4 linked regions of the Homo sapiens genome follow. The protein of the gene in region 1 purifies or fractionates together with the protein of each later gene. This does not show direct contact. Each region holds a gene or a part of one and is shown in the gene's direction. Other genes may lie near its edges.

Region 1 (7,715 bases):
TTTTTTTTAACATGACTACAGGCTGGGCACAGTGGCTCACGCCTGTAATCCCAGCACTTTGGGAGGCCGAGGTAGGCAGATCACAAGGTCAAGAGATCGAGACCATCCTGGCCAACATGGTGAAACCCCGTCTCTACTAAAAGTACAAAAATTAGCTGGGCATGGTGGCGGGCGCCTGTCATCCCAGTTACTAGGGAGGCTGAGGCAGGAGAATCACTTAAACCTGGGAGGCAGAGATTGCAGTGAGCTGAGATCCTGTCATTGCAACTCCAGCAACAAGAGCAAAACTCCAAAAAAAAAAAAAGAGAAAAAAAAATGACTACAACTGAAGGCCTCTTGTGATTGTAAAGTAGAAGAAATTAGATCTCTGGATACTGAACAGGAGAAAGGAGATTAGACTTTGAAATCATAAATTAGCAAATTTCAAAAAGGGGCCTCCCTGTTTGCCCAGCAAAACATTAAGGATCTATTATTCTGTTGACATGTTAACTTTCTCTAATCTTTATGCTGTCTTTTACAGATGGGCTGATTTCTTTGTCATTCTAGAGCCTTAAAATATTCATACATTTTGATCTATTGATAAATTTCATCACTGGAGATTTATCTTATAGAAATAATTCCAAAGAAGGGAGAGCCTTCTATCATTCTACGGCTAGCAGTTCCCTGCTGTTCTGGGCTCTCTCTCCTTCCCTGGGCTGCTCCTACGTCACTATACTACTACCTTTACCATTCCATCATCAAGTGTATACATTACCCCACAGCACAAAAAGAACCGGCTAGAAAAGAACAGAACAGAATTGCAATGGCAGAATTGACAACTGGCTTACCATTTCAGCTGTTCAAGGCCTGACTGGTCTTCCTGCACTTCCTAGTAAGATGACTCACGGTACCATTACAGAATTATCTCACGCTAGGGTCAAACCTGATTTCTACCACCGAGTGTGTGGTAGAGGCATGTTTCTCAGAACCCAGAGCCAAGATAAGGAACAGTCTCCAATTCCCTGTTCTCTCCCCTCCCTCCTTCACCCTTCATTCCAGGCAAGTCTCCTAGGCAAGTGTGTCCCATCCTCATCCTCTTTTTTTTTTTTTTTTTTTTTTGAGGCAGGGTTTCACTGTCTCTGTTGCCCAGACTGGAGTACAGTGGTGTGATCATGACACACTGCAGACTCGACCTCCTGGGCTCAGGTGAGCCTCCTGCCCCAGCCTCCTGAACATCTGGGATTGCCAGTGTATGCCACCACTCCCTGCTAATTAAAAAAATTTTTTTGTTTTTTAGAGACAGGTTCTCACTATGTTGCCCAGGCTGGTCTCAAACTCCTGGACTTAACCTATCCTCCCGCCCTGGACTTCCAAAGTGCTGAGAGTACAGGTGTGAGCTGCCACACCTGACCTCTTGTTGGTTTAGTCTTTCCAAAGTTTTTTCCATGTGATTGACAGGGGCAAGGTCCATGCTTAAGAGTGAACTGTCCCAGATTTCCCATGGCTGTCACAGTTTTAACACTCAAAGTCCCATGTTCAGGGAAACTCCTCAGTCCTGGGCAAAACTAAGACTGGTTATCCTACTTCAGGGAAGCACCATCCTACCTCAGGGGAGTGGCTCCATGAGGAGAGTCCTACCAGAATTCAGTGATCAACAGTAAACACCATAATGAGTTCTTGAGTCTTAACATCAATATGAGGAACATCAGGGGTACAGCCCAGGATGATCTTCACTTCTGCTGGCCTTGTTTCTTTTTTACAGTTTTTCCTCTAGTGTGAGGAGATTCCCGCAAGGTTGATGGTTTCAACTCCTGATCTCTTGTGATCCACTCTTCAGTCTAAATAAACATTTCCATAAGAACATGCAGTAGTTTGCTGTCAAACTGAAGCTTAAATCCATATATATACATACATATTTGAAAAGAACAGTTCTCTAAAGGAAATTTATCTGTAAAGGTGCAACTCTGCCCATAGAATAAGCCACCCTTTCCATGGTCTCACAAAGCAGTCTAGACTCAGCGTTGCAAATATTTTCATTTTCAGATGATGATTTTAGATAAATCTTTGCCGAACTTTCAGGTGTTTTACTCAAAAGTCTCCAGCTTTTGAAAAAAGGAAAATGTCTAGAGCAGTGAAATTAGTTTTTTTTACTGCAATCAAGGTTTCAAAACAATGTAGTTGGCCGGGCGCAGTGGCTCAAGCCTGTAATCCCAGGACTTCGGGAAGCCGAGGTGGGTGGATCACGAGGTCAGGAGATCGAGACCATCCTGGCTAACACGGTGAAACCCCGTCTCTACTAAAAATACAAAAAAATTAGCCGGGCGTGGCCGGGCGCAGTGGCTCACCCCTGTAATCCCAGCACTTTGGGAGGCCGAGGCGGGCGGATCACAAGGTCAGAAGATCGAGACCACGGTGAAACCCCATCCCTACTAAAAATACAAAAAATTAACTGGGCGTGGTGGCGGACGCCTGTAGTCCCAGCTACTCGGGAGGCTGAGGCGGGAGAATGGCGTGAACCCGGGAGGCGGAGCTTGCAGTGAGTCGAGATCATGCCACTGCACTCCAGCCTGGGTGACAGAGCGAGAATCCTCAAAAAAAAAAAAAGCCGGGCGTGGTGGCGGGCGCATGTAGTCCCAGCTACTCGGGAGGCTGAGGCGGGAGAATGGCGTGAACACAGGAGCCAGAGGTTGCAGTGAGCCAAGATCGCTCCACTGCACTCCAGCCTGGGCGACAGAGCGAGAGTCCGTCTCAAAAAACAAAGAAACAAAAACAATGTAGTTATCTGAGTAAAATTTGAATGAGGGCTATAGCTATGCTCCACAAGCCTCTCCAAGAAGGAGAGTTTTCTTTCTTTCTTTTTTTTTTTTTTTGTAGTCCCGAGTAGCTGGGACTACAGGCTCCTGCCACCACGCTTGGCTAATTTTTTGTATTTTTAGTAGAGACGGGGTTCACCGCATTAGCCAGGATGGTCTCAATCTCCTGACCTCATGAACCGCCCGCCTCGGCCTCCCAAAGTGCTGGGATTACAGGCGTGAGCCACCGCGCCCGGCCTGGGCAGTATTTTCAAAGACTTAGAGGAGATTTTTGTAAAGTGCCAATACATTATTTAAAAAAGGCTAATACTGTAAGGATGTGCTCTTTGAGTTTAATTAAAGTCTTCAAAGGCTGGGACTTTTTTTTTTTTTTTTTTTTTTTTTTTTTTTTTTTTTTTTTTTTTTTTAGACGGAGTCTTGCTGTGTCGCCCAGGCTGGAGTGCAGTGGCACGATCTCTGCTCACTGCAACCTCCGCCTCCTGGGTTCAAGCGATTCTCCTGCCTCAGCCTCCCGAAAAGCTGGGATAACAGGCACCCGCCACCACGACCGGCTAATTTTTGTATTTTTAGTAGAGACGGGGTTTCACCATCTTGACCAGGCTGGTCTCAAACTCCTGACCTCGTGATCCACCTGCCTCGGCCTCCCAAAGTCCTGGGCTTACAGGCGTGAGCCACTGCGCCCGGCATTTAAAAAAAAAAAAATTTAAGATAGGGTCTTGCTCCATAGATCAGGCTGGAGTGCAATGGTGTGATCATGGCTCATCGCAGCCTCCACCTCCCGGGCTCAGGATATCCTTTCATCTTAGCTTCCCGAGTAGCTGGGCCTACAGGCGGGAGCCACCAGGCCCGGCTAACTTTTTGTATTTATTTATTTTTTTTTTATAGAGACTGGAGTCTCACCATGTTGCCCAGGCTGGTCTTGAACTCCAGGGCTCAAAGCAATCCACCAGCCTCGTCTCCTAAAGTGCTGGAATTATGGACGTGAGCCGCTGCGCCCGACAAACTGGGACTATCTTGTTTCCTTTTTACACCCTTCCTCTCTGAGTAGTGGGGAAGGGTGTAAACCTCCCTAGGAGCAGGTAAGGTAGACTATGATTGCTCACAATTGGTAACCATACTTGCAGTGATCTTTGTGATTTATTGAATCACATCTAGGATGTACATATTAATCCATATTTGTGCTGAGCATATTCATTTATCAACTAAGAGACTACAGAAAAAAGCCATTGTTGTGGTGATGAAAATGTCAACACTTTATCAGGTTCTGAACCCAAAGAGACTTTTGCTTATTATGTAAGAAGCACACCTGTGGCTCTAGGCCTTTGGAAGAAAATAAAAGAGAAAAGCAATCCGTGTGCTTTTTTTCCCCCTGCCTTAAGGTCAGGCTACATAATTCTGGGTTTTCCCAGCTTCTCTTGGTCATGCTTTGTGGGGACTAAACTGGAGCTTTTACGTAGACTGTTCATTTTGTTCCTCAGCTTGAATTCTCTCTCGTTTTCTGTCTCTATGATTTTTAATTCCCCTCACTGCTCTGTTAGGAAACTAAGGGTCAAATGAGGTTAACTAATTTGCTCAATTGGGATAAAGAGTGTTGGGAGTCCATAGAACAGTTGGGGGACTATAGTTACACAACAAGTGTTATTGCGCTATGATTTGATCTTCAACACATTCACGAGAAACTCCAGTTCTCTAAAGAACTTTAACAGCCGGCGACCCACAGAAAATGGCAGAAGTGCAGGCTCTTTTTTAACCCGTGGCTTATGATCTGGGTTTGTTTATTTACGCCTCAGACAGGAGCCGGACCTTGAGTAGGAGTTGAGCTGTTTTTCGGCGCTCGGCTGTGGTTCCTTGAACGATTGCTTGGGCGTTCCTCCTTTGATGTCTGGGGCGTTCTTGTATTCGGTGATCTTTTGCGCCGTCTTCTTGCTTGATGTCTCCTGAGCGGCGGCGGCGCCGGGTCGAGGGCTGAGTTGTCCGCGAGGCCCCGCGCTCAAGCCGCCTTCTCCTGCCGGTCGGTAGAACGGACCCCTTCCTTTATTCCTGTCTCCTCTTTCTTTTTCCCTGTGGCTCAGCCCGTTCGCTGGACTGCAAACCGAGCTCCCGTCTGCCTTGCAGGTAGGCCCAGGAGGAGCCTGGGAGGCCCAGCCCGGCATCCTTCCGCCGCGGGGTTGAGAAGACCTTGGCGCCGGCGGGTGGGCAGGCTGGCCGGCCGCCGTGACACTGCCAGAGGAGGGGCTACCGGACTGCGTTGAGGGGCGCGGCCGGAGGGGCAGCCCGGAACCGAGGGAGAAGCCGAAAGGAGGGAGAGTTGCTGGGGCTTCCCGGTGTGGTTCTTTAGGGAGGAGATGTTGGGTCTAGGGCACCCCCAGTGTGTGGCGAAAATGGCTTTCCAGGAACCGATAGAGCTTTGCGCACTTTGACCCTCCTTCCTTTCTCCTTTTCCCCCCACCCCGAAGTCTCCGGGTGTCATGCCTCAATTGCACTGGGGACCCCTACTGAGTCCAGCCTTTGAAGGGACCTTTGAGTAGGTGGAGGCTTATGGAACAAGGCCCTCTGGCTCTTCTGAGCGAAGTGTTATGTTCTCGCCTTTTTCTGGGTGGGTAAACTGAGGCTGATGTCTGGGACGTGACTTCCCCACATATCCCCAACAGATCATTAAATTCACTGTAAGTCACTTTTTGTCGTTTACCAATTCCCTTCCCCCCACTTACCAGTCAAGTTATGAAAACAGTGAGTTATTGTTTGATCGTCTGTGATCCCAATTTTCCTAGGAATATAGACTGTTAGGAATATAGATCCTGTCACAAGAGGCTTCAGAAGTAAAGGAACCATGTGGTTTCTTGGCTGTTTTGCTTTTCAAAGTCTGTATCATTTTAACTAGTGTAGCAATGACAGTTTCTTTTTGTTTCTTGATAACCTTGTTGTCTACTTTGTTTCCTGATAACCTTGTTGTCTACTTTGTTTCCTGATAACCTTGTTGTCTACATTGTTTCCTGGTTGATTTATCCTCCTTCTCCCCAGCCTCTTTGGAAATCTTATAACTATGGTGTTTGTGGTTAGAGGTTAGAGTCTAGTAGAGGATGGTCAAGACTTTGAAGGCAAACGCTTGTCCTGTGAGGGTCTGCTTTCTGGGGAGTATCCAATGGAAACCCAAGGAGTCTGTCTCTCTTTTTTCTTTTTTTTTTTTAAGACAGGCTAGCTCTGTCGCCCAAACTGGAGTGCAGTGGCGCGATCTTGGCTCACTGCAACCTCTGCCTCCCGGGTTCAAGCGATTCCCCTGCCTCAGACTCCCGAGTAGCTGGAAGTACCGGCGCGCGCCACCACACTCGGCTAATTTTTGTATTTGTAGTAAAGACGGGGTTTCATCATGTTGGCCAGGCTGGTCTTGAACTCCTGGCCTCAAGTGATTCGTCCACGTCGGCCTCTCAAAGTGCTGGAATTACAGGCATCCACCGCGCCCGCCCAGTTTTGTTGTATTTGATTAGTAGTTTGGTCACTGCACATACAAAAGCTAAAAAAGGCTGTGTGTAGAAATCATTCAAATATTGAGATATTTAAATGAAAGGTTAACGCTTTGGGAACTCCTTTGTGGTTCCCTTTTCCTTCCCAGCTTGGAAAGTCTGGGGACTAAGTCTGTTATTTTCATCGGATTCAGTACCATGATCCTAATTTGTGTCACTTCATTCTTGGAAAAAAAAAAATTCAGCCTGTCGGGCGCAGTGGCTCACTCCTGTAATCCCAGCACTTTGGGAGGCCAAGGCAGGTGGATCACCTGAGGTCGGAAATTCGAGACCAGCCTGACTAACGTGGAGAAACCTAAAAATTCAAAATTAGCCGGGCGTGGTGGCGCATGCCTGTAATCCCAGCTACTTGGGAGGCTGAGGCAGGAGAATCACTTGAACTCGGGAGGCGGAGGTTGCGGTGAGCCGAGATCACGCCGTTGCACTCCAGCCTAGGCAACAAGAGCGAAACTCCGTCTCAAAAAAAAAAAAAAAAAAAAATCAGTCTTGAGGTCATTCTGGGTTGGATAAGTTTCCAAAGTATGTAGAATCAGTAAGAGAGCGTTTTTTTGTGTGTGTGTTTTTTGAGACGGAGTCTTGCTTTGTCCCCCAGGCTGGAGTGCAGTGGTGCGATCTCGGCTCACTGCAAACTTCTCCGCCTCCCAGGTTCAAGCAATTCTCTGCCTCAGCCTCCTGAGTAGCTGGGATTACAGGCGTCGCCACCACGCCCAGCTAATTTATTGTATTTTTAGTAGAGATGGTGTTTTACCATCTCGGCCAGGCTGGTCTTAAACCCCTGACCTCGTGATCCACCTGCCTTGGCCTCCCAAAGTGCTGGGATTACAGGTATGAGCCACCGCGCCCGGCTAAGAGAGTGGTTTTAAGGGTGCAGAGATTCAGTTCCTAGTCCTTGAGTGGAAACTGTACAAGGCCACATTCTCCCACTATTTTAGTATTCTCATGTGAGTTTTGGAAAGATTACTGTTCCTTTAATTTTTTGTGTGAGGTCAGCAAGATTTAAATGAAGGGCCCTTAATCATAAGCAATTTCCTAGTTACACGACCTCAGTGCTCCCAGAAGGGGATTAATGAAGAGCCACCAGACTATCTTTATGGAGAATCTAGATTGGGAAGTTAAGCTAAGAATGTGCATTTTTGAAAAAGTTTTTATGGTAGAAGAGAATGTATATCAGAGGAAAGAATGTAGAGAAGAAAGCAACATTGTCCACTGGGAATTGATAAGTTCTGCGTAGAATTTAGAGTTATAAGGACTATCTCATTGGCTCCTAATGAATGCTAAATAACAAATGGAAATTGCTGTGAGTGTCATGAAGCAATCTTAGGAATATTTTATTATGTTTCTGCAGGAAATAATTGGCAGAGGCTTAAGTTGAATTGAGGCCAAGAAATTTGGTGGTGTTGAT
Region 2 (7,020 bases), on another chromosome or scaffold:
GTGAGCAGCAAATCCTGCCTTAAAGTGATTCTCAGGCTAAGTTTGTGAGAAACCCTGCCAAAGAGGTGGTCGACTTCATAATTTGGAGGAACTTTAGAATTATTGGTTGGAATTTTTAGACCATTGGTTCCTGCTTGCCATGGATAGTGGTCACCAGCAGAGGATAAAGTAAAATGGACACAGCAAATTAACACTGATGAAAAAGGCTAGAAGTGGTCATCTTTTTAGTGTGGAGACATTCACTAAGAAAACATGGTTGTAATTTTTAAAAATTTGCATTAGCATAATCATGTTTTCCTAACGTAAAATTGTACCTAGTTGATCCATAGAATTAAGTCTATCAACAGTTTAAGAAATTGACTTCCAGGTGTTCCTTCATGTGAATAAATTTGGGAATTGTTGCAGAGTAAAGAAACAGATTCTATCAACTACACTTGGAATAAAAAGCCCCATTATAGGGCTGGGCGTGGTGGCTCACACCTGTAATCTTAGCACTTTGGGAGGCTGAGATGGGAGAATCGCTTGAGCCCGGGAGTTTGATACCAACCTGGGCAACATGGAGAAACCCTGACTCTACAAAAACATTAAAAAATTAGCCAGGTATGGTGGCATCTGCCTGTAGTACCAGCTACTTGGGAAGCTGAGGTAGGAGGATGCTTTAAGCTCAGGAGGCAGAGGTTATAGTGAGCCAAGATCACGCCACTGCACTCCAGCCTGGGCGACAGAGCCAGACCCTGTCTCAAAAAACAGCCTCATTATTGGTTATTATGTTTCTACCTTCTTTTGTTGTGGTCTCTTGAGGGATACAGCAAGATTGGTGTTGGAGCAACAGGTTCTCTAAATTTTAGTGTGTGAGAATCCTGAGGGAGCTGCACATTCCTGGGCTCCACCCCTGAAGTTAACAGACTTGGAGATAGGTGACAGACACACTAGTGGTTGAGTGGTCCAGATGGCACTCTCAGAACATGGCCCTGGAGCTGCCTTGGCATCTGTTGGCCAGAGGCGAGAATGTGATCTTTTTGTGTCTGCATGCTCCTAAACATTGGTTCTGCCCTTCCATCCAAGTTCACCCATGAAAAAAGCTCTGTGATTAGCCTGGGTTATCTAAGTCCTGCCACTTCCCAGTTTTGTATTGCCTTGGGCAAGTTATCCTCTGTGTCTCAGTTTCATCATCTGTAAAATTAGGGCAATAAATAATAACATCTACCTTGTTCAAAGATTAAATGAGTTAATATATGTAATGGACTTAGGAACGCCACCCGGTGTGGAATAAGCCATATAGAGATGTTAGCTGTTATTTAATTATTATCATTACTGTACCTGTAATTGAAATATAACCAAAGAGAATTATATGGCTGTTTAGTAAATTTACTTTTGTATTTTCCAGAAAGGATTCAGGAATAAGAGGTCAGAAAGGTAGCTGAAAAGGTCATTATTTCATTCTCTGCCTTTTAAAGACTCTGGGGGGAAAATTCCCTTATCTCTTTCAACCCAACTCATTTTGTAGTCTAGCAGATTCTTATAGTCAGACTCCAAGTAGTGTAATTTTCTAGTTTAAATCCATTTTCTCTTGTTCTACCTGGCTTACCTACGTAAGTCAGATATAAGAATTTGGCATTTCTCCTGTGTTTTGACAATATGTTTGGTCTTTAGGCCCAGGTGTTATTTCCCCTCTTTTATTGGGAAAAGCTGGGTAGCAGTTCCTGGGCTTCTGTTCCACTTAAGTGCATGTTTCAGGGTTGGTTTTGATAAAGATGGCAGTGTGATTGGGATTTAGTTTGCCCCAGTATTTAACTGACTACTTGTGCTCTAAGATTTGGCATCCAGAGAGTATTTTTGAGGTTCTGAGGAGAGACTGTAGGTATATCTGATGCTTTTTGGAGAATCCTAGTAGTGAGTCTGGGTGGCATGACCACCTTGTACTTGAAACACTGGGATGGGTACTCACCTCACCAGCCTGTGTTGATTCCTCTGAGGTTTTTAATACAATTACTTTATATGTTTGATGCATAATTATTTCGACTCCGGTATTTAATTTTTCATCTTGGTATTTGCGGTAGCCCTTCAGGATTATCATTCATTTGCTCATTAATTTAGCCGGTCTGTATTGAACACATACTCATGTGTTTTAGGCACAATGTGTTTTGGTACACATCAGTACTTTTGATAGATATTTAGAATGTCGCAGTGTTCCACGAGTCCCTGTCAAGACTGTCAGCAGGGGAATTTAAGACATAAAACTCTTCTGGTTTTAACTTCCTCCTTTTTCTAGACAGTGAGAGGACTCATTCCCTGTTGTGACCACTGGATAAAAGTGATAATGCTTTAAAAAAAAATGCTACTTTATTGCTTTTTGTCCTAATCTTGTTCACATAGACTTATTGGAGATGCTGTCACTTGAACAAGGAGTGAATCTATGCTCTGTAGGTAGCCTGGCTTGCCTAAGGACTTGCTGCCAAAGCTCTCGCTGCCAGAGCTCTCTGGTCAGCCTCTGAGCCACGAGCCAAAGGTGTGCTGTGCCAGAATTCATCTTAAAGTTTAATAGGGCAGGACCTTGGGTACCTGCAGACACTGGTCCTTGGTAATCAGTCAGGAAGAGGCTTGAAGAGAAAGCAAATAGAAAAGACCAGGAAAAGCTAGTGTATATTCTCAGAATATTGTGTTAGCCGATTTTTGTTTTATTAACAATTGTGGGAAAATGTTCCAGTGACTGGAGTGTTATGTTGATTTGGATAACTTGGGAGCTTATTTTAAAAATTACATATACATACACACATTCACCTTCTTCTTCTGCACTAGGACTGTGTGTGTTAAAGTGGAATATGGCCAGGCGCAGTGGCTCATGCCTGTAATCCCTGCACTTTGGGAGGTGGATGCAGGCAGATCACCTGAGGTCGGGAGTTCAAGACCAGCCTGACCAACATGGAGAAACCCTGTCTCTACTAAAAATACAAAATTAGCCAGACATGGTGGCACATGCCTGTAATCCTAGCTACTTGGGAGGCTGAGGCAGGAGAATAGTTTGAACCTGGGAGGCAGAAGTTGCAGTGAACGGAGATTGTGCCACTGCACTCCAGCCTAGGCAACAGAGCAAGACTGTTTCAAAAAGAAAAAATAAATCAGGGCCGGGCGCAGTGGCTCATGCCTGTAATCCCAGCACTTTGGGAGGCTGAGGCTGGCGGATCACGAGGTCAGGAGTTTGAGACCAGCCTGACCAACATGGTGAAACCCCGGCTCTACTAAAAATATAAAAATTAGCCAGATGTGGTGGTGCGTGCCTGTAATCCAAGCTACTTGGGAGGCTGAGGCAGGAGAATCACTTGAACCTGGGAGGCGGAGGTGTGGTGAGCCAAGATTGTGCCACTGCACCAGCCTGGGTGACAGAGTGAAACTCCATCTCAAAAGAAAAAACAAATTAGCTGGGAGTGGTAGCATGCACCTGTAGTCCCAGCTACTCAGGAGGCTGAGATGGAAGGATCACTTGAGCCCAGGAGGTCAAGGCTGCAGTGAGCCAAGATCTTGCCACTGAACTCCCGCTGGGGTGACAGAGCGAGACCGCCATCTCAAAACCAAAAAAACAAAACAAATGGAATCAGCACAATAGCTGTAGAAAGATGCTATTAGAAAGGATGGGGGGAAATGGAAAATAAGTGGCAGATAAAGTACCCATACTAAAAAGATGTCTTTAGCTTGGTTGAAAAATAATTGTCAGTCCTACCACTGTGAGTTCAAAGAACTTAAGAAAATACAGAACTTCAAGCAGAGATATAGAGGATTGGGTAAAATAAGGCATGGCAAAGAGAAAATATAACATCAGCTGGCAGAGCACACAGGAAAGTAGTGGAAGAGAAAACTAAAATTATCACAGGATTAAAAGCCACATTGGAAACAGAATAAAGGCTGGGCACAGTGGTTCACTCCTGTAATCCCAGCTACTTGGGACACTGAGGCAGGAGACTTACTTGAACCTGGGAAGAGGAGGTTGCAGTGAGCCGAGATCATGTCACTGTACTCCAGCCTGGGTGATGAAGTGAGACTGTCAAAAAAAAAAAGAAAGAAAGAAACAGAATAAAGATGAACACACAGTGCTGAAAACAGTAAAGGTTAGGGAGGACAGATTGAAAAATGAAACTGAAGAAAACAATGAGAACATAATAGATGCAGAAAGTAAAAGAGATCTGACGTAAGTATAATTGGTGTCCCTCAAGAAGAGGACCAAAGAAATGAAACAAACTCAAATATATGGTTAAAGAAGAACTTAGAAGTAAAGATTTGAAGTGATAAGTTCAAATTGGCATGATTTGAACTTGCCAAAGATTTGAAGTGATAAGTTCAAATTGGCATGAAGTGATAAGAAAAATTGGCACTGAACAGTTGGCACTGAAACATTTCCTAGGAAAATTTCTTTTTTAAAAAATTTATCTTATTTTTCGTGTGTTTTGTTTTGTTTTGAGACAGTGTCTCACTCTGTTGCCCAGGCTGGGTGCAGAGGCATGATCCCAGCTCACTGCACTCTTGACCTCCTAGGCTTAATCGATTGTCCCACCTCTGCCTCCCGAGTAGCTGAGACTACAGGTGCACACCACCACGCCCGCTAATTTTTGTATTTCTTGTAGAGGCAGGGTTTTGCCATGTTGCCCAGGCTGGTCTCAAACTGTGGGCTCAAGTGATCCACTAACCTCAGTCTCCCAAAGTGCTGGGACTACAGGCCTGGCACAGAGCCTGGCATCCCTAGGAACATTTCTATGTTTTAAGGATGAAGAAAGAATTATTTGGACACCCAGACAAAATGATCAAGTCCTCTTTAAGAGGGGAAAAGAAATTAGGCTAGCTACATTTGATGACAGAAGGCCATGGAGCAATGTCTAGGAATGTACAAATACTGTAGATTGTGCTGCTATAAATACTTGGGGATATACTTAGGCATATGTAAGGTTTATGTGGAAATAATAATGCTGGGGAACACAAAACAATACTCGAAAAATGGGAAGGTATTCTCTTTTCTTGTATAGTAAAGCTTGGTATCCTAAAGATGTCAGTGTCCCTAAACTTAATGTAATCCCTGTTTAAAATACCACAGTTGTTTTTTCTGGAGACAGGGTCTCGCTCTGTCGCCCAGGCTAGAGTGCAGTAGTGTGAGTATAACTCACTGTAACCTCAAACTCCTGGGCTTAATCAGTAGGTGTCTCACTATGTTGCTCAGACTGGTCTTGAGCTCCTGACCTCAAACAGTCCTCCTGCCTGCCCAACCCAAAGTGCTGGGGTTACAGGCATAGGCCACCATACCTGGCCAAAAATACTCCAGATTTTTAATAATGGTTTTTTAGAACCAGGCAAACTGATTGTTTCTACAGATAAATTTTACAAACATGCACACATTGTCAAAAAACTTCTGAAAAGGTGGACTAATGATGGATATTAAAACATAATGCAAAGATATAATAAATAAGATCGTTTGATACTCTAAGAACTGATGTATAAACAGAGTCTAGAAATGAACTCAGAATACAAAAAGAAATGTAGTCTGTGCTAAAGGTGATAGGAAATGAAGAAAAAATATTTTTAAGGCCAGGCACAGTGGCTCACGCCTGTAATTCCAGCACTTTGGGAGGCGGGGGCAGGCAGATCACGAGGTCAGGAGTTCGAGACCAGCCTGGCCAACATAGTGAAAGCCCGTCTCTACTAAAAATACGAAAAATTAGCCAGGCATGGTGGTGGGCACCTGTAATCCTCGCTACTTGGGAGGCTGAGGCAGGAGAATCACTTGAACCCAGGAGGTGGAGGTTGCAGTGAGCCAAGATTGCATCATTGCACTCCAGCCCGGGTGACAGTGTGAGACCCATATATATATATATATGTATATATATATACATACATATATATACGTATATATATGTATGTATATATATATGTGTATATATATGTATATATATATGTATATATATGTATATATATACGTATATATATATGTGTGTGTATATATATATATATATATTTTTAATAATTGGTATTGAAACCAGAAAAAAAAATTGGATCTCTACCTTAAGCTTTGTACCAGCCGGGTGCAGTGGCTCACACCTGTAATCCCAGCACTTTGGGAGGCTGAGGCGGGTGGATCGCCTAAGGTCAGGAGTTTGAGACCAGTCTGGTCAGCATGGTGAAACCCTGTCTCTACTAAAAATGCAAAAAGTAGCCGGGCATGGTGGCAGGTGCCTGTAATCCCAGCTACTCGGGAAGCTGAGGCAGGAGAATCGCTTGAACCCAGGAGGCAGAGATTGCAGTGAGCCGAGATGGCACCATTGCACTCCAGCCTGGGCAACAGAGTGGGACTCCGTCTCAAAGAAAAAAAAACCTTGTACCAGAATTCCAGATAAATGGAAGAATGTAAACATATAACTGTAAAACACGGGAGAATCTTGGTGTGAGAAAGCCATGAAAGTAGAAGTAAACTATATAAAAATAAAATCTCTGTAACAAAACCAAAGTCAAAAGATAAGTGACAAACTGAAAAAATACATGTAATGTCCTAGACAAAGAACAAATCCCTTAATAACTGCATATAAAGATCTGCAAATCACCAGGAGACCAGTCACCCAGTAGAAAAAGAGAAATAGATAGGAAGAGTTTCCAGAAAGGATATGTAAATGATTCTTGAACGTATGAAGAACTGAACCTCATAAGAAAAAAAAAAAATGGAGTTTCAGCTAGATTAGGAAAAATAAAAAACCGTGGTAATCTACTGTGTGTGTGTGTATACACGTATGTGTAGCTTTCCCATGCAGTTGCTATCAAAATTTAAATTGGCATTATTTTCCACCTGGTAGTTCCGCTAGTGGTAATTCATCCTACAGCTATACTCATGTGGTTGAAATGACTAAAGTGCAAGGATATTCATTTTAGCATTATTTGTAAAAGAAAAATATGAAAATATTATTATTAGGGAAATTGTTGAATAAATTATGCTACCTCCATGCAGCTGTTAAAAGAATGAGCTAGCTTTTCATATACTGATATGGAATA
Region 3 (7,020 bases), on another chromosome or scaffold:
GTTCCATGGATGTTTACTTCCTTGTTTCTAAGATTTGGCCCATGTTGATTTCATAGCCTGGAATGCTTCTTCTCCCTTCTAGCTATCTAAATCATTTCCTATATTTGAGCTCAGATCCTACCTACATGAAGTCTTTGCAGTGTTCTTTCCTTCTTTTAAAAACTTAATGGCTAAGGCACTTTCTTGGTTACTTACAAATTTGGCCTCTGTTCCTAGTTTTTCACATGTACTTCTTTCGCAAATTAAAATGTAAGCTTCAGATTAGGTGGGCATGGTGGTGTGCGCCTGTAGTCCCAGCTACTCTGGAGGCTGACACAGGAGAATTGCTTGAACCTGGCAGGCAGACATTGCAGTGAGCCGAGATGGTGCTGCTGCACTCCAGCCTGGGTGCAGAGTGAGACTCTGTCTCAAAAAAAAAAAAAAAAGGTAATCTTCTTGAGGGTAAAAGTTCATTTAGTGCGAGTAAGCATTAGGTATACCATTTCCTGACTGGTTGGCCATTCATTGGATACATTTGGAGGACAGTATATCATAGTAGTTAAGATGTTTGGATCCTGGAGCTAAACAGGCTGGGTTAAAATCCTGGTTCTGCCACTTACTAGTTTTATGATCCTGGAAAAGTCATTTAAGCTCCATGGCCTCAGTTTATCCAATGAAATGGGGATAACGATAGTACCTATTACTCATAACAGTTGTTGTAAGAATTAAATCAATTAAAGTGCCTAAGGTAGTGCCTGGCACATAATAAAGCTATATAAGTGTTATGTATTATTAAAAAGATATTCTATGCACACTGACTATGAACCATGAAAAAAAAAAAGGTATTCTAGGAGACATAGAGTGAGATTCATGATGTCTGTCATCAGAAAGTTTAGATCTTCCTTTTCCCCATCTAAGAGTCCTCTTCCTGGTTATAGTGGAGATTAGGAAATTAACAAAGTATGGAATGGTGAGTTAGAAAATCTATAGGGAGAGGCTAACTCCTTGCTATCTTTTGGGGGATCCCAAGGGAATAACCATGTGGCTCTGAACTATTTCTTACTTCTCAGATGTGGACCCTCCAAAGGACACAATTGTGAAGAACATTACCCTGAACTTTGGGCCCCAACACCCAGCAGCGCATGGTGTCCTGCGACTAGTGATGGAATTGAGTGGGGAGATGGTGCGGAAGTGTGATCCTCACATCGGGCTCCTGCACCGAGGCACTGAGAAGCTCATTGAATACAAGACCTATCTTCAGGTGTGGGGGGTGAACAGGAGCCTTTTGGCGGGATCTGGGGTTGCTTTAGCCTGGGGCTTTGCCAGTTTGCTGCCCTTAAAACGTGAGGGGAGGAAGGTGTTGAGAGGAGTAACCCGTTGAGATTACTCTTGGTTGGGTGGATGGAGGGAAGTGGCAGGGGATGCTTGAGTCATTAGGATTTGGTTTATTTAGCAGCAGTGCTTTGAAGCTGGAGCTATACTCAGCTTTTCTCTGGCTGACTTTTTGGCAGGCCCCTTTGCCATTACTTGAGTGCCTCAGTTTCCCTGCTCTTACGTTAGACTAGTGCGTCAAAGCCAGTGTCCCTAGGGGCAGGGAAAGAGAAAAGACATTAGCTCGCTAAGTTTAACAGCTGATTCTTGTATCTTCCAGCTGTCTACGTTTGTTTTCAAAACATTCAATGAGTCACAGCAACTCAGAGAGGGTTTATGACAGTTTGCCATTTTTAGGAGAACTGTATAACCCAAATGATGAAGGTCAGATTTGAAGGAGTTGGATCTCTAATAGGAATCTGAAGTTTTTTTCTTACTGTCATGAAGAAAGGTCCTGATAACAGGATGGTAGGATTAGGATTTAGATCCAGCCCAGTGTCGGGGTGAACAGTGACTAGAATGTGATTCCCCAAGAGAGCCTCGGCGATGACAGTTTCTGGTCCTGGAGTCTATGGGTTAACCCCTGTAGCATTAGCCCCCGTCACAGTGACATCAGAATAAGAACAGGCTGTCCCAGCTAGTAGCGTCTTAGCTCCACCCTCTTCCTGGAAGCTGAAGCTGGTTCAGCAGACAGCTAGGACTTGGCTTTTTGGCATTCTGGAGGAAGGACCATTTCTACCTGATGCTCTGTCTTCCTTAAATACCTCACTCTGGCCGGGCTCACGCCTGTAATCCCAGCACTTTGGGAGGTCGAAGCAGGTGGATTACTTGAGGTCAGGAGTTTGAGACCAGCCTGGCCAACAAGGTGAAACCCCATCTCTACTAAAAATACAAAAATTAGCCAGACGTGGTGGTGTGCGCCTGTAGGAGAATCACTTGAACCTGGGAGGCAGAGGTTGCAGTGAGCCAAGATGGTGCTACTGCACTCCAGCGCCTGGGCAACAGAGCAAGACTGTGTCTCAAAAAAAAAAAAGATTAAAAAAAAAAACCCTCCCAGATACTCTTAAGACTGATTGCCTTTCTCCTTCAGTATCTGAAGTTTTTTGTTTGTTTTGTTTTTTTCCCTACGGAGTCTCGCTCTGTCGCCCAGGCTGGAGTGCAGTGGCGTGATCTTGGCTCACTGCAACCTCTGCCTCCCGAGTTTAAGCAATTCTGTTTCAGCCCCCAGAGTAGCCAGGATTATAGGCACGCACCACCATGCCTGGCTAATTTTTTTTTTTTTTTTTTTTTTTTTGAGACGGAGTTTCACTCTTGTTGCCCAGGCTGGAGTGCAATAGTGTGATCTTGGCTCACTGCAAACTCCACCTCCCAGGTTCAAGCGAGTCTCGTTCCTCAGCCTCCCAAATAGCTGGGATTACAGGTACTCACCACCACGCCCAGCTAATTTCTATATTTTTAGTAGAGATGGGGTTTCACCATGTTGGCCAGGCTGGTCTCAAACTCCTGACCTCATGAGCCACCCTGACTTGGCCTCCCAAAGTGCTGGGATTACAGGTGTGAGCCACCGCGCCTGACCAGTATGTCAGTTTTTTAAATTTTTATTATTTTTTGAGATGGAGTTTTGCTCTTGTTGCCTAGGCTAGAATGCAGTGGCATAGTCTTGTCTCACTGCAACCTCTGCTTCCTGGGTTCAAGTGATTTTCCTGCCTCAGCCTCCCAAGTAGCTGGGATTACAGGCATGCACCACCACGCCCTGCTAATTTTGTATTTTTAGTAGAGAAGGGGTTTCTCCATGTTGGTCAGGCTGGTCTCAAACTCCTGACCTCAGGTGATCTACCCGCCTCGGCCTCCCAAAGTGTTGGGATTACAGGCGTGAGCCACGTGCCCGGCCAAGGACTCTTGACAGTGGTATCCTGGAGCTAGCTCATACGGGCTTGCAAGAGTGCAGTTGTTAAATTTTCAGGAGTTTTGTGAGCCAGTTGTTGAACATAGCCATTGTCAGAAATTAATTTATATAAGCTTATGATTTAATACATTATATTAAAAGCAAAGGTAAGATTAAATATTCAAAGCTCATCACTTCATTATTTTACCACATTTTACTATGCTCTGCCTTTGAGGTATTTGCTTTGAATGTGTCTGTATGGTGGAAATACTGTATAATGGTGTGGTATTCTTCCCAATGCTGCATTCAGTTACATGATATTGGTAACTTAAAATTGGCCATTGTGGGAGTATTTTTACCATGGAAATTGGCAAACATGACAAATCAGAGTCCTCCCTCACTTTGGAGAGCCAGTTTTTAAACATTTACTAGAATACTACTGGTTTTTGGGATATTTTTACCTGCCTTGTTGGGGCTCCTGAGACTAGAAAGGCTTATACAGCACCAACTTCTGGTGCCGACTGAGAGCAAGGCTTCAGGCAGCCAGACTGTGGGCTCCTGAGCCTGTTAGATGTGACCCACATTCCTCCCTCTTCCCAGGCCCTTCCATACTTTGACCGGCTAGACTATGTGTCCATGATGTGTAACGAACAGGCCTATTCTCTAGCTGTGGAGAAGTTGCTAAACATCCGGCCTCCTCCTCGGGCACAGTGGATCCGAGGTATGTCCCCCCAACTTTTTCTGTGGCCCACTGTGAGCATAGCATAGTGCCTTTTCCACCACTTCCCCGTTGAACCCAAGCTTAGTGTTCAGACCCCAGGCTCTGCCCAGACCTCTCTGTCCGCCTCAGTGCTTGGCTCCTATATCCTGTCTTCTCCTTGTCTTCACAGTGCTGTTTGGAGAAATCACACGTTTGTTGAACCACATCATGGCTGTGACCACACATGCCCTGGACCTTGGGGCCATGACCCCTTTCTTCTGGCTGTTTGAAGAAAGGGAGAAGGTAAGAGTGGGAGGAAAGGATAGGAATAGGGAAGGAAGTGCAGGAAGTAGAGAAGGTATAAAGGAGACAGGAGATTAAAAGAAGAGAGAGAACATGGGAGAACATTTAGAGGGGGAAGGTATGTTTAACTTGGGTTATATTTGTAGAAACTATATCATGAGGGGTTGGTTGGGCACAAGAAGGCAGAAAGTGGGGGAGTAGGCCATCATAGGACCTGGGGGCCTGGGACTTTGACACTAATTCCCAGCACGTTCTATGAAGATGTTTGAGTTCTACGAGCGAGTGTCTGGAGCCCGAATGCATGCTGCTTATATCCGGCCAGGAGGAGTGCACCAGGTGAGCAGGTCCCCGGCTTCCCCAAATGTCCAGCCCAGGCCTATTTTCCCTGTGGCCACTGGAGGGCAGTGCTGGATGATGGAAACTCCAAACCTGTATCGCTGGGGGAGGGGGTGCTGAGAGGGCTCTCCTTAGTGAAGGCTATGCCACATTCAGTAGCACTTCCGTTTGGCTTCTAGGACCTACCCCTTGGGCTTATGGATGACATTTATCAGTTTTCTAAGAACTTCTCTCTTCGGCTTGATGAGTTGGAGGAGGTAAGCTAGGAGTCAATGGGAAAAATCTCTCCCCCACAAGAAGGGCTAGAGAAATACAGAGATATTTGAAGAGTGTGAGGAAGAGTATTAACACACCAGTTTTCTTGATCAATAGTTGCTGACCAACAATAGGATCTGGCGAAATCGGACAATTGACATTGGGGTTGTAACAGCAGAAGAAGCACTTAACTATGGTTTTAGGTGAGGGGAATACAACTTCTCTCCGTAGGAGTGGGGGTGGGAGTGGGGGAGTTCCAGCCTAATATCTTGTCTTTGAAGACTTGTTGGCATCCTCCTAGTCATACCCTGAATGTGAAGGATCAACAAGGGAGGCTAAGGAAGAAGGAGCCTCCTTACTTAGTTTGTGGAGAGTGGCCCTTATTCCCATTATGCTCTCCACAGTGGAGTGATGCTTCGGGGCTCAGGCATCCAGTGGGACCTGCGGAAGACCCAGCCCTATGATGTTTACGACCAGGTTGAGTTTGATGTTCCTGTTGGTTCTCGAGGGGACTGCTATGATAGGTAAGGCCCCAATCCTTTCTTGGCTGATATTCCAGCTAGTTTCCCCTGCCTCACTCTTCTCTTTGCCACTTCCTTCTTTACCCTACTTCTCAGTGTCTGTGGGAGCTCTTGTGTGTGTTAGACGAGGTTGCTCTCAAAACACTTTCACATATATGGAATCTTACTTATTTTTTTCTTTTTTGAGACGGAGTTTTGCTCTTGTTGCCCAGGTTGGAATGCAATGGTGCAATCTCGGCTCACTGCAACCTCCGCCTCCTGGGTTCAAGTGATTCTCCTGCCTCAGCCTCCTGAGTAGCTGGGATTACAGGCATGAGCCACCACGCTCAGCTAATTTATGTATTTTTAGTAGAGACGGGATTTCTCCATGTTGGTCAGGCTGGTCTCAAGCTCCTGACCTCAGGTGATCTACCCGCCTCGGCCTCCAAAATTGTTGGGATTATAGGCGTGAGCCACCACACCCGGCCTATGGCATTCTTTTTATCTTTACATTATCCTTGTCTTAGATGGAGCTAGCTTTGGCTGCATTTTATAGCTGAGAAAGCTGAGGCATAAAAGTTAGGGATTAGCTGGGATTATTCTTCAGGAGTGGTCGAGACTAGAATCCTCCTGATCCAGTGTTCTTTCTAGTAGATCCTAAGCTTCAGATTCTCCTCCTGGGCCAGGCACAGTGGCTCATGTGTGTAATCCCAGCATTTTGGGAGTCCAAGGTGGGTGGATCACTTGAGGTCAGGAATTCAAGACCAGCCTGGCCAACATGGTGAAACCCCATCTCTACTAAAAATACAAAAAATTAGCTGGGTGTGGTGGTACATGCCTGTAAGTCCAGCTACTTGGGAGGCTGAGGAAGGAGAGTTGCTTGAATCTAGGAGGTGAAGGATGCAGTGAGCTGAGATGGAGCCACTGCATTCCAGCCTGGGCGACAGAGCGAGACTCTGTCTCAAAAAAACAAAAAACGAAAACCAAAAACAAATTCTCCTCCTGTTTTCTCACCCTGAGTCAGATTTGTTACTGTGTATTGTTTTTTTTATTTTTGTTTGTTTTATTTTTTGAACCTGGTAGCTACTGCTGTTATTTTTGTTTGTCCATTTGACTCTCACCCATCCTGTGGTCCAAAAAGTGCTTAAGGAGGTAATTAAAGAAATAAATACTACAGGCCATGTTCTGAGAAAATAAGGAGAGGGTTTGGGGAAGCACCCAAGAGTAGAAGCAAACGATTACAGGGGGCTGGGGTTGGTGGCTCATGCCTATAATCCTAGCACTTTGGGAGACCAAAGCAGGCAGTCGCTTGAGCTCAGGAGTTGGAGATCAGCCTGGGCAGCAAAGTGAAACCTCGTCTCTACAAAAAATATTCGGATGTGGTGGTGCACGCCTGTAATCCAAGCTACTTTGGAGACCGAGATGGGAGGATCACTTGAGCCCCAGAGTTCGAGGCTGCAGTGAGCTGTGAAACCCTGTTTCAGAAAAAAAAAAAAAGACTACAGGGTTTATATGGGTGGCCAAGCCAAGCAGAGATGCTGTACTTGGAGAAAAGAGTGGGGAGAGTTGACCTAACCCTTTTGAGGTTGGCCAAAGGGCATCCTTCCTAGCCCCATACCTGCTCCTCTGACTGTTCTTCTCTTGCTCTGTCTCATCTTCTTGAGGTACCTGTGCCGGGTGGAGGAGATGCG
Region 4 (7,767 bases), on another chromosome or scaffold:
GCGTGGTGGCTCACGCCTGTAATCCCAACACTTTGGGAGGCCGAGGCGAGTGGATCACCTGAGGTCAGGAGCTTGCGATCAGCCTGGCCAACATGGTGAAACCCTGTCCCTACCAATAATACAAAAATTTGCTGAGGGTGGTGGTGCACACCTGTAATCTCAGCTACTCAGGAGGCTGAGGCAGGAGAATCACTTGAACCCCGGAGTTAGAGGTTGCAGTGAGTTGAGATCGTGCCACTGCACTCCAGCCTGGACGACAAGAGCAAAACTCCGTCTCCAAAAAAAAAAGAAGTATAGGTGGGGAGGGGTTTTGGAGGGTTTTTGTTTTTTTTTTTTTTTTGAGATGGTGTCTCACTCTGTCGCCCAGGCTGGAGTGCAGTGGCGCAATCTCGGCTCACTGCAAGCTCCGCCTCCTGGGTTCACGCCATTCTCCTGCCTCAGCCTCCTGAGTAGCTGGGACTACAGGCGCCCACCACCACACCCAGCTAATTTTTTTTTTTTTGTATTTTTAGTAGAGATGGGGTTTCACCGTGTTAGCCAGGATGGTCTCGATCTCCTGACCTCGTGATCTGCCCAACTCGGCCTCCCAAAGTGCTGGGATTACAGGCGTGAGCCACCGCGGCCGGCCGTTTTTTAAAGCCACTGTTAGGTGTGGGTCAGAGAAACCTTAGGATGCCTTCAAGATTGTGCTGGAGCTGTAAAGAGTGCTAAGCCAAATTACTTTCCTATTGGAGCTATACTATGCGAGTAAATAAAAAATCATTTGCTGGCCAGGCGCAGTGGCTCACACCTATAATCCCAGCACCTTGGAAGGCCAAGGCAGTGTCTCACGTGTCCGTGTGAAGAGGCCACCAAACAGGCTTTGTGTGAGCAACAAGGCTGTTTATTTCACCTGGGTGCAGGCGGGCTGAGTGGGAAAAAGGAGTCAGCAAAGGGTGGTGGGATTATCATTGGTTCTTATAGGTTTTGGGAGAGGCGGTGGAGTTAGGAGCAATGTGTTGGGGGCAGGGGTGGATCTCACAAAGTACATTCTTGAGAGTGGGGAGAATTACAAAGAACCTTCTTAAGGGTGGGGGAGATTACAAAGTACATTGATCAGTTAGGGTGGGGCCGCAACAAATCACAATGGTGGAATGTCATCAGTTAAGGCTATTTTCACTTTTTTTGTGGATCTTCAGTTGCTTCAGGCCATCTGGATGTATACGAGCAGGTCATAGGGGTTACAATGGCTTAGCTTGGGCTCAGAGGCCTGACAGGAAGGAGGACCACTTGAGCCCAGGAGTTTGAGACCAGCCTGGGCAACATAGCGAGACCCTGTCTCTACAAAAAATGCAAAAATTAGCCAGGCCTGGTGGTGCCCACCTGTAGTCCCAGCTACTCAGGAGGCTGACGTGGGAGGATCACCAGAGCCTGGGAGGTCAAGGCTGCAGTGAGATATGATCACACCACTGTACTCCAGCCTGTGCAACAGGGTGAAACTGTCTCAAAAAAAAAAAAAAAAATGGCGGCCGGGTGCAGTGGCTCACGCCTGTAATCTCAGCACTTTGGGAGGCCAAGGTGAGGGGAATCACCTGAGGTCGGGAGTTCAAGACCAGCCTGACCAACATGGAGAAACCCTGTCTCTACTAAAAATACAAAATTAGCCGGGCGTGGCAGTGCATGCCTGTAATCCCAGCTACTCGGGAGGCCGAGGCAGGAGAATCGCTTGAACCCAAGAGGCGGAGGTTGAGATGAGCAGAGATTGCACCACTGCACTCCAGCCTGGGCAAGAAGAGCGAAACTCCATCTCAAAAAAAAAAATAGCTTGCTAAAAAGATAAAAACATACATACACACATACTAACTGAGTTGAGGGAGAGAGAGTATATAAGTCACAGAAGCTAAGGGATCGCCCCACCAAACCCATATAAGGTCTAGCCCCTCTGGAATTTATTCTGGCATCTAGTGTGAGCGAAGGGGCTAACACAAATTTTTTCCCAAAATAATTAACACAGGATTTCTCAGCCTCAACCCTGTTGACATTGGGCCTGCATCATTCTCTGGGGTGGGGCCGTCCTGTGCACTGAAGGGCTTTCAGCAGCATCTCTGGCCTCCACCCACTAGATGCCAGTAGTGCACACATAGTCTCACACACACATCCCCGCCCCCATCTGGGTACGACAACCAAAAATGTCTTCAGATATTGCCAAGTGTTCCCTGGGAAGGCAATATCACCGCTCCCCCGCCCCCCCGACACACACACACACACACACACACACACACACACACTCTCACACACACGCTGTTGAGAGCCACTGGTCAAATTTAGTGGTCATTGGGCAGGGCACGATGGCTCACATGTGTAAACCCAGCACTTTGGGAGGCTGAGGTGGGAGGATTGCTTGAGCTCAGGCGTTGGAGACCAGCCTGGGCAACATAGCAAGACCCCCATCTCCACAAAAAAATACAAAAATTACCCAGGCATATTGGTGCATGCCTGTAGTCCCAGCTACTCGGGAGGCTGAGGTGGGAGAATCACTTGAGCCCAGGAGTTCGAGGCTGCAGTGAGCCATGGCCATGCCACTGCACCCCAGCCTGGATGACAGGGCAAGAAATTAAAAAAAAAGAATTTGCTGGGCGCGGTGGCTCGCGCCTGTAATCCCAGCACTTTGGGAGGCCAAGGTGGGCAGGTCACGAGGTCAGGAGTTCGAGACCAGCCTGGCTAACATGGTGAAAGCCCGTCTCTACTAAAAATACAAAAATTAGCTGGTCATGGTGGTACGTACCTGTAATCTCAGCTACTGGGGCGGCTGAGCCAGGAGAATGGCTTGAACCCAGGAGGCAGAGGTTGCAGTGAGCCGAGATGGCACCACTGCACTCCAGCCTGGGTGACAGAGCAAGACTCTGTCAAAAAAAAAAAAAAAAAAAAAAAATTAGTGGCCATGGCAAATGTGAGGTCCCAACCACATGGCCAAGATGGCTTACCCCACCTCCCACCAGCAATACACCAAAGTCCTTGAGTGGGAAAGTCAAGGATGGGAGGCGAGGAGGAGACTTCCTGGGAGGGCGGGACTGGAGGCTGTCCAAGGAAGCAGCCCCAGGAGGCTTGACCTTCACATGAGGGGCAGCACAGGAAGTCCAGTCCAGCCTCTGATAATACTTAGACTCGAGAAAGATACAATTTATTGTTGACTCTGCAGGAGGGGAGACTATCGCCACCTTGTTAACTGGGTCATCGCATAATCAGACCCTGGAGGGTGGGCCTTCCTCACCACCCCAACTTGCAAATGTGAAATTCAGACACAGAGAGGAGCACCAGGGCAAGGTCATACACCTAATGCTACAGGAAATGCAGAGGCAAGGGAGATGGTGGGTAATAAATTATAATACTGAGCTGGGCGCAGTGGCTCATGCCTGGAATCCCAGCACTTTGGGAGGCTGAGGCAGGAGGATCTCTTGAGCTCAGGAGTTGGAGAGCAGCCTGGACAACATAGCGAGACCCCATCTCTACAAAAAATCTTGAAAATTAGCCAGGCGTGATGGCATGCACCTGCAGTCCCAGCTACTTGGGAGGCTGAGGTGAGAGGATTGCTTGAGCCCAGGACATTGAGGCTGCAGTGAGCTATGAGCATGCCACTGCACTACAGCCTGAGGGACAGAGCAAGACCCTGTCCGAAAATATATATATATAGGCCGGGCGCGTTGGCTCACGCCTGTAATCCCAGCACTTTGGGAGGCAGAGGTGGGCAGATGGCCTGAGGTCAGGAGTCTGAGACCAGCCTGAACAACATGGAGAAACTTTGTCTCTACTAAAAATACAAAAAAATTAGCCGGGCGTGGTGGCACATGCCTGTAATCCCAGCTACTCGGGAGGCTGAGGCAGGAGAATCGCTTGGACCTGGGAGGCTGAGGTTGTAGTGAGCCGAGATTGGGCCATTGCACTCCAGCCTGGGCGCCAAGAGCGAAACTCTGTCTCAAAAAAAAAAAAAAAAGGGTATAGATATAGATAAAGATAAATTACAATACTGGAGAGGAGGGGTGTTATTTTGGGAAAGCGAGGCAGCCCTGGGGACTCACTGTCCCCCTCCCAATATGAACCCAGCTGTCTTACTCCTCCACTCTCCTCCTTAGGCCAGGCTGGGGGTGACCCCACCTGGGACGAGCTCAATGCCCAGTAGAGGTGTACCAGGGGAGCCCACCAGCATCTGCACCCAATCATGGGAGGAAAATCGTGGTTTTACTATGCAGCTTCAGGACAAGCCCTCCAGGAACCTACCGCCCCCCACCCGCAAACCAGATCGCCGCTCCGGAGCCCCCAGCCCACTGGGAGGGCTCGCGGTTACTGCAAGGATTCTGGCGAATGAGGTCTAAATAGAATGAGAAGGGGGGCTGCGGACCGAGAAACTGAGGCAAGGCCTGGGGCGGGAGGGTGGAGGCTAAGGGGGAGGGGCAGGACTTCTCAGATGCCTGTTTACCAGGCGCTCCCCTCCCTTCCTCCGCCCAATTTCTGCGGGTGGCCAAGCCTGGCTGGGGGCTGGGACGGGGGAGACTGCACTGGTGGCTCCCTAAGGGGCCTCACCCCCAAGGCAGGGGTCGGAGCACGTGGCGTCCCGGACTTCTCTGGGAGGCCCCCTGGGGAGGGAGGTCCCTGCACCACCTCCCCCCACCCCAGCCCCCTCCATCATCCCGGGGCGGGACCAAGGGGCGGAGCGGGAGGGTGACCGGCCGTGACGCGTGCCCCGCCCGCTCATATAGCGGCTCCCGGGGGCGCAGGGACCGTGCTCCGCCGTCTCCGCCGCATCTTCCACCCTCGCCGCCGCCGCAGCTCCCCGCGCTCGTGCCACCGCCGCCGCGTCCACCCTCAGCGCCACCGCCATGCGGGAGATCGTGCACCTGCAGGCCGGCCAGTGCGGCAACCAGATCGGGGCCAAGGTGCTCGGGGAACGGGGCCCGGGGAGGCAGTGGCGGCCCCGGGGAGCACCGCGGGGTCGGTCCCCGGAGCACCCCGCAACCTGGGAGTCTTTGGAAAGGAATGAGGTCCCCAGGAGGCCAGCGCGCCCCAGGGGCCTTGGGGGAAGGGTCGCGGGGTGGGGGTGGCAGGGCCAGACTGGGAACAAAGAGGCTGCGGAGAGTGGGAGCCAGCCTTCTGTCCGCCTGTCACAGCTGGGCCCACAGCTGGGCCACTGTCCCCTCCTCACGCACAAAGAGCCCCGGTGCCTCCCCCGGGCTGCAGCCTGGGTGCGCTGGCACCAGCCGGCCCCGCTGGGTGCTGACTCGGCTGCACCCCGCCCCCACCGCTCCTTCTTGCTGCCTCATCCTCGCCCCGACACCATGCCTCTAGGTCCCCCGTTCACCTTGCTGGGGGAGAGGTGGCAGCTAGGGAGCTAGTTGGGGGCTGGGGGCAGTCCTCGGCTTGGCCACCGGCTTCCCCTCTCTCAACTCTTCCGACCACCTCTCTCTCTAGTTTTGGGAGGTTATCAGTGACGAACATGGCATCGACCCCACAGGCACATACCATGGGGACAGTGACCTGCAACTGGAGAGGATCAACGTGTACTACAACGAGGCCACAGGTAGGGCGAAGGAGGCACCTTCCAGGTGGGAAGGGGCAGCTGGGAGGGAACAGGATGCTACCGGGCGCCTGTGGTTCCTGGCACGCATCGAACTGCCCTCCATCTGTTTCCCTGCAGGAGGAAATTATGTCCCCAGAGCGGTGCTGGTGGACCTGGAACCCGGCACCATGGACTCTGTCCGTTCTGGCCCCTTCGGTCAGATCTTTCGGCCGGACAACTTCGTGTTTGGTGAGTCCCCCAGCAGGGAGCCAGAGGCTGGAAAACCTCCTTATTCCTGCTAACACCACAGAGTCAACAGCCACCACCGGGGCCCACAGACCAGAGATGGGGTGGACAGGGCACCAGGCACCAGCCCTGCATCCAGGGCTGTGATGAGGGGATGCTCAGGCCACTGTGAGAGCCCTGAGGAGGGCGGATACAGAGAAGGATTCAGGGAAGTCTTCCTGGAGGAGGTGGCATTTTAATTCAACGGTCTGAACCGGAACCAGACTGCCTGGGTGCACATCCCAATTCTGCCACTTCATGCATTCAACAAACAGTGAGCACTCACTGCATACCAGGCCCTGTTCTAGAAGCTGGAGATCCAGGTAAGAATCAAACAGCCGGAGCTCCCTCTCTGCCCCAGTGCAGCTCCCATTCTGGTAGAAGGTGATAGGCCACAAAGGAGATAAATAAGTAAAGCTCTGCCAGGGGTTGATTCAGATGGATAACTTAGGATGGGCTCCTCAGCCTTTCTGGGCCTCAAAAATCCTCTTTTTTTTTTTTTTTTCAGACAGGGTCTGTCTGTCCTGCTGTCACCCAGGCTAGAGTGCAGTGGCATGATCACGGCTCACTGTCACCTCCACCTCTGGGCACACGTGATCCTCTTGCCTCAGTCTCCCAAGTAGCTGGACCTACAGGCATGCACCACCACACCCAGCTAATTTTTTAGTTTTCTTTGTAGAGAGGTGGGTCTCTCTATGTTGCCCATGCTGGTCTCAAACTCCGGGACTCAAACGATCCACCCAACTCAGCTCCCAAAGTGCTGGATTACAAGCATGAGCCACCTTGCCCGGCCTCCTCGTCTTTAAAACAGGGATTTCACTGGGCATGGTGGTTCATGCCTATAAACCCAGGACTTTGGGAGGCTGAGTCAGGAAGAGAGCTTGAGGTCAGGAGTTCGAGACCAGCCTGGGCACCATGGTGAGACCCTGTCTCTACAAAAAGAAAAAAATTTTAATTAGCTGAGTGAGGTGGTGTGCACCTGTAGTCACAGCTACTCGTGAGGCTAAGGTAGGAGAATCACTTGAGCCTGGGAGGTTGAGGCTGCCATGAGCTATGATGGTGCCACTGCACTCCAGCCTGAGCGATGGTGTGAGACCCCATCTCTAAAAAAGATCAAATAAAACAGGGATTCTAAAATGCTATTAGAATTGTGAGGCTCAGGGTGGGCACGGTGGCTCACACCTGTAATCCCAGCACTTTGGGAGGCCGAGGCGGGTGGATCACCTGAGGTCGGGAGTTTGAGACCAGCCTGACTAACATGGAGAAACCCCATCTCTACTAAAAATAAAAAATTAGCCAGGCATGGTGGCACATGCCTGTAATCCCAGCTACTCGGGAGGCTGAGGCAAGAGAATTGCTTGAACGGCAGAGGTTGTGGTGAGCCAAGATCATGACACTGCACCCCAGCGTGGGCAACAAGAGTGAAACTTCGTCTCCAAAAAAAAAAAAAAATTGTGAAGCTTAAAGTCATGAATATGTGTAGAGTTTAGAACAATGCCTGACACAGAGAAAGAGGTAAATAAGCATTTGTCGTTGTTTTCATTACTATCTGCAGTCTAGAATGTGAGTAGGATTTGGACTGGCCAAAGGGCATGGAAGGGAGGAAAGATGTTTAAGACGGAGGCAACAGCATATGTGAAGATAGTGGGGTGTCCACACCCTGGGACAATCCTTCCGGGAAAGCTTTCCTGGCTCCAGCTGGCTGCATGTCCCCACCCTGGCTCCACCCGCCTCCAATACTCCCAGCATGTAAGACGTGCTAAATGCAGGACCTGTCCTGCCTCTCTGAATCTTTTCCGCAACTCGCCTCTTACTTCCATTTTACAGGTGAGAAAACAGAGGCACAGAGACGTTAGGTCACTTGCAGAAAGTCACACTGCAAGCCACTGGGGCTGTCAGGAGCCAGAGGAGAGGGTCTGACTACTAGGTCCACGCTTTTTTTTTTTTTTGAG

What was found.
Region 2: the proteins of AMBRA1 (region 1) and DCAF7 purify together in Homo sapiens (affinity purification with mass spectrometry; 3 studies listed by BioGRID and IntAct, with this or other methods). This does not show direct contact.
Region 3: the proteins of AMBRA1 (region 1) and NDUFS2 purify together in Homo sapiens (affinity purification with mass spectrometry, with the first as the bait; 2 studies listed by BioGRID). This does not show direct contact.
Region 4: the proteins of AMBRA1 (region 1) and TUBB4A purify together in Homo sapiens (affinity purification with mass spectrometry, with the first as the bait; 2 studies listed by BioGRID). This does not show direct contact.

Annotation. Positions count from the first base shown.
Region 1 is NC_000011.10:46,591,020-46,598,734, reverse strand, and holds the start of AMBRA1 (activating molecule in BECN1-regulated autophagy protein 1), read left to right. Parts: upstream 1-4,711; 5' UTR 4,712-4,907; intron 4,908-7,370; exon of another isoform or gene 7,371-7,610; intron 7,611-7,715. UniProt on the Homo sapiens protein: Substrate-recognition component of a DCX (DDB1-CUL4-X-box) E3 ubiquitin-protein ligase complex involved in cell cycle control and autophagy.
Region 2 is NC_000017.11:63,553,464-63,560,483, forward strand, and holds part of DCAF7 (DDB1- and CUL4-associated factor 7), read left to right. Parts: intron 1-7,020. UniProt on the Homo sapiens protein: Involved in craniofacial development. Acts upstream of the EDN1 pathway and is required for formation of the upper jaw equivalent, the palatoquadrate. The activity required for EDN1 pathway function differs between the first and second arches.
Region 3 is NC_000001.11:161,205,358-161,212,377, forward strand, and holds part of NDUFS2 (NADH dehydrogenase [ubiquinone] iron-sulfur protein 2, mitochondrial isoform 1 precursor), read left to right. Parts: intron 1-1,049; coding exon 1,050-1,240; intron 1,241-3,835; coding exon 3,836-3,956; intron 3,957-4,125; coding exon 4,126-4,238; intron 4,239-4,499; coding exon 4,500-4,574; intron 4,575-4,753; coding exon 4,754-4,831; intron 4,832-4,946; coding exon 4,947-5,032; intron 5,033-5,233; coding exon 5,234-5,353; intron 5,354-6,993; coding exon 6,994-7,020. UniProt on the Homo sapiens protein: Core subunit of the mitochondrial membrane respiratory chain NADH dehydrogenase (Complex I) which catalyzes electron transfer from NADH through the respiratory chain, using ubiquinone as an electron acceptor. Essential for the catalytic activity of complex I.
Region 4 is NC_000019.10:6,499,299-6,507,065, reverse strand, and holds the start of TUBB4A (tubulin beta-4A chain), read left to right. Parts: upstream 1-4,853; coding exon 4,854-4,910; intron 4,911-5,442; coding exon 5,443-5,551; intron 5,552-5,668; coding exon 5,669-5,779; intron 5,780-7,767. UniProt on the Homo sapiens protein: Tubulin is the major constituent of microtubules, a cylinder consisting of laterally associated linear protofilaments composed of alpha- and beta-tubulin heterodimers.